3 linked regions of the Homo sapiens genome follow. The protein of the gene in region 2 purifies or fractionates together with the protein of the main gene of each other region. This does not show direct contact. Each region holds a gene or a part of one and is shown on either strand. Other genes may lie near its edges. The genes, in order: CYP51A1, PCDHGB5 and SPECC1.

The links.
Region 1: the proteins of PCDHGB5 (region 2) and CYP51A1 purify together in Homo sapiens (co-immunoprecipitation; 2 studies listed by BioGRID and IntAct, with this or other methods). This does not show direct contact.
Region 3: the proteins of PCDHGB5 (region 2) and SPECC1 purify together in Homo sapiens (co-immunoprecipitation; 2 studies listed by BioGRID and IntAct, with this or other methods). This does not show direct contact.

What each region holds. Positions count from the first base shown.
Region 1 is NC_000007.14:92,113,746-92,117,498, forward strand, and holds part of CYP51A1 (lanosterol 14-alpha demethylase), read right to left. Parts: intron 3,468-3,753; coding exon 3,299-3,467; intron 99-3,298; coding exon 1-98. UniProt on the Homo sapiens protein: Sterol 14alpha-demethylase that plays a critical role in the cholesterol biosynthesis pathway, being cholesterol the major sterol component in mammalian membranes as well as a precursor for bile acid and steroid hormone synthesis.
Region 2 is NC_000005.10:141,400,863-141,404,615, forward strand, and holds part of PCDHGB5 (protocadherin gamma-B5 isoform 1 precursor), read left to right. Parts: intron 1-1,915; exon of another isoform or gene 1,916-2,090; coding exon of another isoform or gene 2,091-3,753. Other genes in the region: PCDHGA9 (protocadherin gamma-A9 isoform 1 precursor), read left to right, coding at 2,091-3,753. UniProt on the Homo sapiens protein: Potential calcium-dependent cell-adhesion protein. May be involved in the establishment and maintenance of specific neuronal connections in the brain.
Region 3 is NC_000017.11:20,313,260-20,317,012, reverse strand, and holds part of SPECC1 (cytospin-B), read right to left. Parts: intron 3,038-3,753; coding exon 2,948-3,037; 3' UTR 1-2,947.

The sequences.
Region 1 (3,753 bases), on a different chromosome or scaffold from region 2:
TCCATCAATGAGATCAAATTCATATAAACGAAGCATAGTGGACCAAATTGTCTTAATTTGAACATAGGCAAAATTTTCCCCAATACAACGATGACGCCCTAAAAAAAAGAAAAAGTTATAAGAATCAGTTTAAATTCTTTCTCATCCTTTTTAGCCTGGGGTGATATTATCTACATTTTAGATGAACAGCAAATGTACAGATAATATAATAAAAAGATGACATTCTTTTCACATAAAACAACATGAATTATTAAAAATTCCAGGAGATTTTCAATACCACATTTTAGGAAAACAGTACTTGACTGATCACATAACTTTTCCAATTACTTTTTCTGAAAATATATATCTGGGTTAAATATATGGAAAGTTTGAATCATAAGATGGTAATCTAGTTTGGGAATATAGTAGAATATTCTGTTTGTCCCAAGAAAGCCCTAGTTAAAAGTCAATATGAAAACCTTCCAATCAAACCTCAAATGTCATTATAAATGTATGGAAGAAAATGAGATTTAATGAACCCAAAATAATATACTAAAAAGTCACACCCATGTAGAAACTGACAAGCTGATTCTAAAATGCATATAAAAATGCAAAGGACCTAGGATATCCAAAGCAATCTTGGAAAAAGAACTGAGTTGGAGGACATAAAACTGATTTCAAATCTGACTTCAAGACTAAAGATAAAACAGAGTGGTACTAGGTAAGGATCAACAAATAGATCAATGGAACAGAGCAGAGAGCCCAGAACAGAATATTTTTATGGTTATTTGATTATCAGTACAGACACCAAAGCAAGCCAATGAGGAAAAGCAAGTCTTTTCAACATAAGGTCCAGGAATAACTAGATATTACATGGGGGAAAAATGAAATTCAACTCCTATGTCACACCATAATCAAATACTAATTCAAGAAGGGTCACAAACCATGATGCTAACAGCATAAATTTCAGTAGAGAAGAACAGGAGAATATCTTCATGACTCAGGGGCTAAGCAAAAATTTTAAGACAGGGCCAGAAAGCAATAACCATTTAAAAGATTGATACATTGGACTAAACTAAAGGTTATTCATTTGTCAAAACTCAATGAATGTTGACTTAAGATTTGGGCATTTCATTGCAAGATTTTTCATCAAAAGAAAAAACCTAAACTGATAGTGCTTAGCACAGTGCTTGCTTGGCCCATAACTGTACTTATTTCTAGGAGTGACATTTAAGATGAGCATTTACAAATTGGTCCATATTTCAAATATAACAACTAAAGAGAAGCTTGGCTTACAGGAAGAATAGTCCAAGGATTTAATCGCAACAAGCAAGAAGTATCCTAATTGAATCAACATAAGAGTAGATAAATTCTGATGATTCACAAAATGTAATATTATGAAAATGAATGAACTATATGCACCAACATAAATAAACAGCACAATTACGAGGTAAAAGAATGAGTAAAGAAATTAGAGACATGTAATGTGATATTTAACAAGATTAACGTAAGATCATATATCCCCCCATAAATTCAAGTCCATCCAGAACCTTAGAATGTGATCTTAATTGGGAAATAGGATCTTTATATACACAATTATTTAAGATGAGATGACCCTGACTTAGGGTAGGACTTAGATCCAATGACTGGTGTCCTTATAAGAATGCCATGTTAAGATACAGAGACATGAACAAGAAGAAAGCCTGTTGAAGACAGGGGTAGTAATTGGAACAATGTAGTTACAAGCCAAGGGTTGCCAAGAGCCACCAGAAGCTAGGAAGATGCAAGGAAGGATTCTCCTGTAGAACCTTAAGGAGGAGCACGGTCCTGCCAATACCTTGATTTCACACTTCCAGCCTCCAAAACTGTGATAGAATATATTTCTATTGTTTTAAGCCACCCATATTGTAATTAGTTACAGAAGCCCTAGGAAACTAACACAAAGATTGAAAAAAAGATGGAGGAGACATTATATCTGTACTCAAATACCTCATACAATATAAGTTCAGAGACTATGGTTAGGACCAACTATAAATGAGATGTTAAAAAGAAACAGATTTCAGCTTTAACATAAGGCTCTAAAAATGACAGCTGTCCAAACATAGAATGAGCCATCATAAAAGGTAACTGAACAACCCACAACCCATTTCTAGTAAAGTTCAAGTGGAAACCAGATAATTACTAGTTTAGAAACGATTCCTCTTTGGGGCAGAATTTGGGCTACAGAACTAATGCTCTTCCCATCTGTTAACAATCTGATTCTTTGGCCAGGTGGCATGGCTCACGCCTGTAATCCCAGCACTGTGGGAGGCCAAGGTGGGCAGATTGCTTCAAGCCTGGAATTCGAGACCAGCCTGGCCAACATGGCAAAACCCAGTCTCTACTAAAAGCTCAAAAATTAGCTGAGCGTGGTGGTACACACCTGTAATCCCAGCTACTCAGGAGGCTAAGGCACGAGAATTACTTGAACCCAGAGGTGGAGGTTGCAGTGAGCTGAGAGATTGTGCCACTGCACTCCAGACTGGGTGACAGAGCAAGACTCTCTCAAAAAAAAAACTATGATTCTTTTATATATTGTGTTATACACCACAGTATTAAATTTATTACATAAAGTTAAGATCTGAAGTTCCCAAAGGACTTTATATTTTCCTTTATATGTGGAAAAAGTGTGACCAATGACAAGTCATCTGTCATTTAAATGATCCCTTTGGAAAGACTAAAGCATAGAATATAGTTTAATCAGTACAGAGAACCAATGGACAGAGAAATTACTGGAGAAACAAGGGTATAGCTAAATTATTTTAGGATCTTACTGGAAATGAAATTTGCAAGCCTACACACAACCTGCCCAAATTTAAAGACCATTTTCTCATACGGATATTCAGAGAGCAAAAATGTTGACTAACGATCGAGAAGAGCTTTAATTTTAAAAGACTGCCTTTGCTTTTTTGTGAAATGCTAGTAATCTGTTATTCCCTGAATGGTGTGCTGACTCCAATGGTTCTTTAAAAGAGAATCCACAAAGAGCTTTAAATACCATTGTAAGGGAAAACAAGGATGTTCTATAAAAATTAGACCTAATAAAACCAGACAGGTTAGGAAGTAGTGAAGCATTATATAAGGATTTATGGAACAATTCCATTTGGTACAAAGGAAATATTTTTCTCCAACTTATAAAGATTCTTCTCCTAAAAAAGTTTGCAAAAATGTCCCTATGAGGAAAGGGAGAGATAATTTGTAAACACAATTCGGAATATTTTGACAGAGACAAATATGTTATCAGAACAAACATTTCCAATCTAAAATATAATCATCTTACCAGCTCCAAATGGCACATAGGCAAACTTTTCCCCTGATGCTGGGTTATCCTGTAAGTAGCGATCAGGATTAAAGTCCAGGCGTTCTACCCATGAGTCTTTAAGTCTTTGATTGACAGTGGGAGAAACACACACCTGATGTCCTGGAGGAATGGTATACCCTGCCACAGTCTATAAACAAAAGCCACACATTTCATTAGAGAATTTAAAAATGTGCTGACAAATAATCAGATCATTGTGTAATAAAGCATGAATATACATGGGATACTCAGATGCTCCTTGACTTATGATAGGTTTACATCCTGATAAATCCATCATAAAGTCAAAAAATTATAAGTTGAATCACATAAATCAAGAACCATCTGTACATATATTTAAAAACTGGCTAGATAATAGGCAAACTAAAAATTATTTTAACTCAAGATGATTTCCAGTGAGCCAGCGTTGGGTTGGAAGT
Region 2 (3,753 bases):
TAAACCATTAAATTTAATGTATGTAATCATTTAATTCATCTTTTAAAGCAAAGAAACTGCTAGTAGATGTCTTTCTTCACTGATTTCACTGGTAGTTTTCATCTCTTTCTTATGTTCCTCATATATGCTTTCTTATTCCTACCTAATGGATTTATGATTTTTTGAATCTCCTAAAATTTTATTAAAAATACTATATGTTGGCTGGGTGCAGTGGCTCATGCCTGTAATCCCAGCACTTTGGGAGGCCGAGGCGGTTGGATCACATGGTCAGGAGTTCAAGACCAGCCTGGGCAATATGGTGAAAACCCGTCTCTACTAAAAATACAAAAATTAGCTGGGTGTGGTGGCGGGCGCCTGTAATCCCAGCTACTCAGGAGGCTAAGACAGGAGAATTGCTTGAACCTGGCAGGTGGAGGTTGCGGTGAGCCGAGATCACTCCATTGCATTCCAGCCTGGGCAACAAGAGCAAAACTCCATCTCAAAAAAAAGGAAGGAGAAGGAGAGGAAGAAGAAGAAAAATACTACATGTTATGTGTATGAGAGAGAAAGAGAGAGACTGATTCACTGAACTTAGAAGGTCCAAATCATCCAAATAATTTTCTAAGTTTATCCAGGTTTTCTTGGATGCAAAATCCTTTTCCACCTCTATATAATTACCAGAAGAAACTTACAAAAAAAAGGAAATGCTATTGCCTGAATTTCTCTTGCTCGGAATCCTGACATATTCTTGAAGAAGGGGAAAAAGACACCGGATTTGTCTTATCGTTTGGAGCTTTAAATATAAATGACTGGATGTTTTCTCAACATCCTTGTAGGATGGAAGGTGAATACAGGATTATTCCATTTTTAAGACAAAAACTACTAGTCTTGTGTACATACAAAGCTCCCATTACATGGTATAAGTCTTTTGCTTGGTTTCCCTTAGTATGTGATTCAGTAAATGGGTTCCTTACAAAGTGCTGAGATTTCTTATAATACCACTTACTTTTAACCTTTCAGTAGTTTTCTTTGTTGTATATTTTGTGTTCTTTTTCCCAAATTATTATATAAGTTTAAGTGATGCTTAGAATAATGTTTAAGACCACTTTAAAATTGCATAATTTATTGATGAAGGATTAAAATAGAAACTTGCTTTTCAGTGTATATGCATTTGAATCATTGAAACACAGTCTGTGCATGCATTACATATTCACATTAAAAAACTAAGCATTTTTGAAATAGCAGAAAAGTTTAAGCAATTACAAAAATGTGAAAATTTCCAACTTTAATCCTGTTAATATTTAGCAATATTAGGCGAGAACATCTGTAACTATTGCTGAATTAATATTACTTTTATAATACAAAAATTTAAAATAAACGTTTTTCCAGGAATTTTATCATCAAAATAAACCCCAGAAAATAATTTCAAAGTGGATAATCTATCCTTATATATGTATTAATACAATTATATATTTTACATTTACAAATATATAGGTATAAAAATTAAAAATGAATGTACTTCCAAACAAGATTGCACATAAAAATTACTTCAGAAAATTGTTAAGATACACAGAAAAAATTGAAGCATCATAAAAAGGAAATTATAATAGTTTACATATCTAGAAATAGAGTGCAAAGTTCTACCAAGAATAAGAATAAATTAATATTAAGCAATGGTTTGTGATTTTATAATACACTTACAGAAATTTTATTCCACTTTATTTACAACTCAGATATCTAAAAAATAGATTGCTTTTGAAATACAAATGCAAGAAACAATTGGAGAAATCTAAAATCATAATTAGAAGAGAGTAGTGTTTTCTTTATCAGCCATCTGATATAATGTTACACATCAGTGGGTGTAGTAACGGCTTAGGACTCTGAGCGCCGCTGTTGATCAACTCTAAGCGAAAATCAGGACTCCATCCGGATTTCCAGTTCTGCGGCTACACAAAACCCGGCAGATACCACAAACCTGCTCCCAGGCTGCAGCAAAACTCAGCCTCTTTCTTCTAAGGAAAAGATCACCATACTTTGCAGGGTGGAAGAAAGAACCTGATGAAGCAGCGCGCACAGAGATCCTTTTGAGAAAATTCCAAAGCGAGGCAGCAATGGCAGCTCCAACCAAATGCCAGCTCCGCGGAAGATTAGTCCTGCTATGCTCGCTCCTGGGGATGCTATGGGAGGCCAGGGCCAGTCAGATTCGCTACTCAGTGCCTGAAGAGACAGAAAAGGGCTATATTGTGGGCAACATCTCCAAGGACCTGGCTCTGGAGCCCCGGGAGCTGGCGGAGCGCCGAGTCCGCATCGTCTCTAGAGGTAGGACGCAGCTTTTCTCTCTGAACCCGCGCAGCGGCACCTTGGTCACCGCGGGTAGGATAGACCGGGAGGAGCTCTGTGCTCAGAGCCCGCGGTGTCTGGTGAACTTTAAAGTCCTGGTTGAAGACAGAGTGAAACTGTACGGAATAGAAATAGAAGTAACTGATATTAACGACAGCGCCCCAAAGTTCCAGGCCGAAAGTCTGGAAGTAAAAATTAACGAAATCGCGGTTCCTGGAGCACGTTATCCACTTCCAGAAGCTATTGATCCGGATGTTGGCGTGAACTCCCTCCAGAGCTACCAGCTCAGCCCCAATCACCACTTCTCCCTGAACGTGCAGACTGGAGACAATGGAGCCATAAACCCAGAGCTGGTGCTGGAGCGCGCCCTGGACAGGGAGGAGGCAACTGCCCACCACCTGGTCCTCACGGCCTCGGATGGCGGCGAGCCGCGTCGCTCCAGCACAGTGCGCATCCATGTGACAGTGTTGGATACAAATGATAATGCCCCGGTTTTTGCTCAACGGATTTACCGAGTTAAAGTCCTTGAGAACGTGCCCCCAGGCACCTGGCTGCTTACTGCAACAGCCAGCGACCTGGATGAGGGAATCAACGGAAAAGTGGCATACAAATTCTGGAAAATTAATGAAAAACAATCTCTGCTATTCCAGCTTAATGAAAATACTGGGGAAATATCAACAGCAAAAAGTCTAGATTATGAAGAATGTTCATTTTATGAAATGGAAATACAAGCTGAAGATGGTGGGGGATTGAAAGGGTGGACAAAAGTGCTCATTTCGGTGGAAGATGTAAATGACAATAGACCTGAAGTGACCATTACATCTCTGTTTAGCCCAGTGAGAGAAGACGCACCTCAGGGAACAGTAATTCTTCTTTTCAATGCTCATGACCGAGACTCCGGGAAGAATGGTCAAGTTGTCTGTTCTATCCAGGAGAATCTATCTTTTACATTAGAAAATTCAGAAGAAGATTATTACAGATTGTTGACGGCCCAAATTCTTGACCGAGAAAAAGCCTCAGAATATAATATCACGGTGACTGCAACAGACAGAGGAACTCCGCCCCTGTCCACAGAAATTCACATCACCCTGCAAGTGACTGACATCAATGATAATCCACCTGCTTTCTCTCAAGCCTCCTACTCAGTCTACCTCCCGGAAAACAACGCCAGAGGTACTTCCATCTTCTCCGTGATTGCCTATGACCCTGATAGCAATGAGAATTCTAGAGTTATTTACTCCTTGGCAGAGGATACCATCCAAGGGTCTCCTCTCTCCACCTATGTCTCTATTAACTCAGACACTGGTGTGCTGTATGCTCTGTGCTCCTTTGACTATGAGCAGTTTAGAGATTTGCAAATGCAGGTGACGGCAAGTGACAGTGGAAGCCCACCACTTAGCAGCAATGTGTCATTGAGACTGTTTGTTTTGGACC
Region 3 (3,753 bases), on a different chromosome or scaffold from region 2:
ATGGCCTTTCATGTTTCTTTCCTTCTTTTTAACCTAAAGAGAGCAGGATACAGACAAAAATGGGGGAGTTTGGCCACAGTCATTGGCAACTTGGGCTCCCAGTGGAGAGGGGCTGGTATGGCCCCAGCGGGGAGGGAGGGACACCGCAACGCCATTGCTCAGAGCTGGTTCTAGATGATTTACACGTAATCACTCAAAATAGAGCCAATCACAGGCCAGGTGTGGTGGCTCACTCCTGAGTGAGCTGAAATCGCGCCACTGGCACTCCAGCCTGGGCGACAGAGCAAGACTCTGTCTCAAAAAAAAAAACAAACAAACAACAACAAAAAAAACACAAAAAAACAGCCGGGCTCAGTGGCTCATGCCTGTAATCCCAGCACTTTGGGAGGCTGAGGCAGGCAGATCACCTTGCCATCAGGAGTTCGAGACCAGCCGGGCCAACATGGTGAAACCCCCTCTTTACTAAAAATACAAAAACATTAGCTGGGTGTGGTGATGGGCACCTGTAATCCCAGCCACATGGGAGGCTGAGGCAGGAGAATCGCTTAAACACGGGCGGCGGAGGTTGCAGTGAGCTGAGACGGTGCTATTGCCCTCCAGCCTGGGCAATAAGGATGAAACTCCATCTCAAAATAAATAAGTAAAAATAAAAAACAGAACCAATCACAGAAAACACCCACTCCCACTCCGGGTATCCCAAGACAGCAACTGCCTCCCCACATAAAACCCTGGACTAATTCCAGCTTAAATCTAACAACCAACAGCTCAACTCAACTACTTGGGATATTACTTTCCCCCACTTTAATGGTGGGCAAAGAAGAAGTACAGGGTTAATAAAAAAAAAATGCTTCAAACAAGTGCCTGAATCAGCAGAAGTAGTAACTTTCAGGTTGAATTGGTTCTATGTGTCGAGTTTCATTTAAATACAAAGGCATGGGTGATGTAATGACCATCGCCCAACAGCTGCTCAGGAGCTCCCGCAGGCTGCCTGCCTTGTGGCTGCCAGGGGAAGGTGTCCACCCCTCAGTGGTTCTCCAAGCAGCTGTGCTTCAGTCGCCTAAAGAACTTACAAAACATGTGAACTGCATCTCTGGTCCCATTCCAGACATTCTGAAGTTAACCAACTAGGGCAGCCAAGAGTGTTTTCAAAAGGGTCCACTGTAGGTTCTGATGCAGAGCTGCAGCTGGGATGCACTAACAGGGGGGCGGAGTTCTTGTCTCAAGGTGGCTTGAGAATCAGGGATCTGCTGACCCGTGCAGCCCAGTTGCCACCTCTGCAAAGGTCTGGCTTGGAGGAAGGGACTGAGCTCCTACCTCTCCAGGAATGGTAAGGGGCTGGACCTGCAGCCTCTAGAACCTGGCTCTGAACCAGTGGCTCAGATCAGCAATCAGAGATGTACTTTGAATAGTAATGGCAGTCACTGTCATTCTCGGTGACTCACTGGAAGGATGATCCTTTGTTGGAGGGGCGCTAACACGCTATTTGGCACTTAAAACAGCAAGGGATGGGCATTACCCATTTCCCTCAAACAACTGTGTGAGCCACGCCCTCACTCGCTGTGTAGTGCACACAGATCCGCCCAGAAGAACACGGCAGAGCCACCAGATGGGCACTCGGGCCGGACTGAGCACTTCTGAGGGACTGGGGCACCGCTGGGGAGGGCTCTGCTGCCACTTAAGGTGACCAGTAGGATGCTGGGGCAACTGCATTCTTCTTTGTTAGTTATAAATGTGCCCTCACCGCCCACCCCTAAGGGCTTTTCCCATGCCGATGAAAGAGGCCTGGGGAAGCACTAAAGGCCAAATCAGTCCAGAGCCGAAATACTGTTGGGATTTGCTGTCAGCCCAGCATCCCCAGAGGCACACACCCTCAGCCTGCTCAACCCTGTAAAGCAGACACAGGCCATTCACACATGTGACCTCCTGTCAAGTTCTGTGGGGTACAAGCCTGTGTGGATGTGAACGGGAGGGTAAACGAATGGGAGGACAAAGGCGCAGGTGACGAGGACTGCGGTTTCCCTACTGTGAAAGCCGCGAGCTGCTCAGGAGCACACAGACTTTGGTGGCAGAGGTGTGGGGCACCTCCCAGGGACTCCAGCAAAGCAGCCAGGGGCTCCCTTGCATTCTCACAGGCTTTCCTTTTGCTACAATAAATCAAATAAGGGATGGTGAGAGCTAAAAGTGAATCAAGTTCCAGGTGTTAACATTGTTACCTAGAACTCCCATTTTTCCCCAAAAGGCTGAGTGCGCACGCACGTTTCCAGGTTGCCCTGGAACAAATGTTTATTTTTTGTGTTTTGTTGTTTTTTTTTGGGGGGGGAGGGGGGAAGGGAGGGTTCACAAGGGCAAAGTTTTGGGTTTTATCATTTTTTTGAGACAGGGTCTGGCTCTTTCACACAGGCTGGAGTGCAGTGGTATGCTCATAGCTCACTGCAGCCTCGAACTCCTGGGCTCAAACGATCCTACTGCCTTGGCTTCCTAAAGTGCTGGGATTACAGCCACGAGCTACCACACCCAGCCAAGGGCAAAGGTTTCATAAAGGCAAAGCCGGGATATTTTTAACAACAGCAACCAAAAGACTGATTTGGAGATGTTCTTTGTCTGAATTTCTGCAGATAATGTGTTCGTTCAGCCACCCAATATAATCAGCAAAACAAGCCTGGGTGTGGGGTCTTGGTCTGGAAGGAGGGAGGCTGCCCTCTTTAGAAGCATCCCACAAGAGATCAAAGAGTCCCCAATTTACAGTCCAGCTGCATTTGCATTTCAGACAGGTACATCGTGGGACCCACTCTGTTTCTTATTTGGGTGTTGGTCCACTTGGATTGAGCCTGTCTTTGAAGTCTAGGCAGCTGGGTGGTGGGCAGAGCAGGGTCAGTGGACAGTAATCAGGCGCTTCCAGGAAAAGCTGCAGTAGGTGGCAATGGTGGCTGCCCCAGGCCCTCCAGGGTTACGTCTCAAAGTACTTGTAGATTTGGGCCACGTACTGCATCACACTCTGCCAGTCGGGCCGGTCTGTGTACAGCATCTCGCTGAGTTCCTGCAGGGGAAGGGAATGGGGGACAGATCACAAGGCAGGACATCACAGACCCCTTCCCCTCAAGGACTTCAGTCCAGGTTAGGGCTTACACTGCCTGGAAACCCTCCACTTACACAGACAGAACGTGAAGGCCAGCACAGGTGGTGCTGAAAGCGATGAGTTAAAGGACTTTTCCTCCCACTTATTCAGGAGATACTGTCCCTTTCCAAAAACGGAAAACATGACCTCCCACTGCTTTTATCTTTTAACCATATGACAGCATTTAAACAAGTTTTAAAAAGCAAAAATCACCCATAATTTCACTATTAAAATGATTTCCAAGTTTCTAAATTACATTTGAATCCACCTCTAATTCCCCAGACTCCCAGCACACTGCACGCGCTATTACGTGGGCTGTGCCATTACGTGGGCTGAGCATTTCACACCCGGGTCCCCGTGCTGCTGTGCCACTGTGCGGGCTGCCATTCTAGTGAATGTGCACTCACCAGGGAAACTGCTGTCCACAAGGGACATGGCATCCAGTGTACGCTCACCTCGTGACCACCACAGACTCTGCAATCAGCATCTTTGTGCAGTATTGTTTCCTTCTGTCGAACTAGTCCCTCAAGATAAATTACTGAGTGGGATTATCACAAAAGCCTTGAACCAATTTCAAATGCAACCATTTATTTTACCAGCATTGTTACTACTTAATGTGTTTTTTTGTTTGTTTGTTA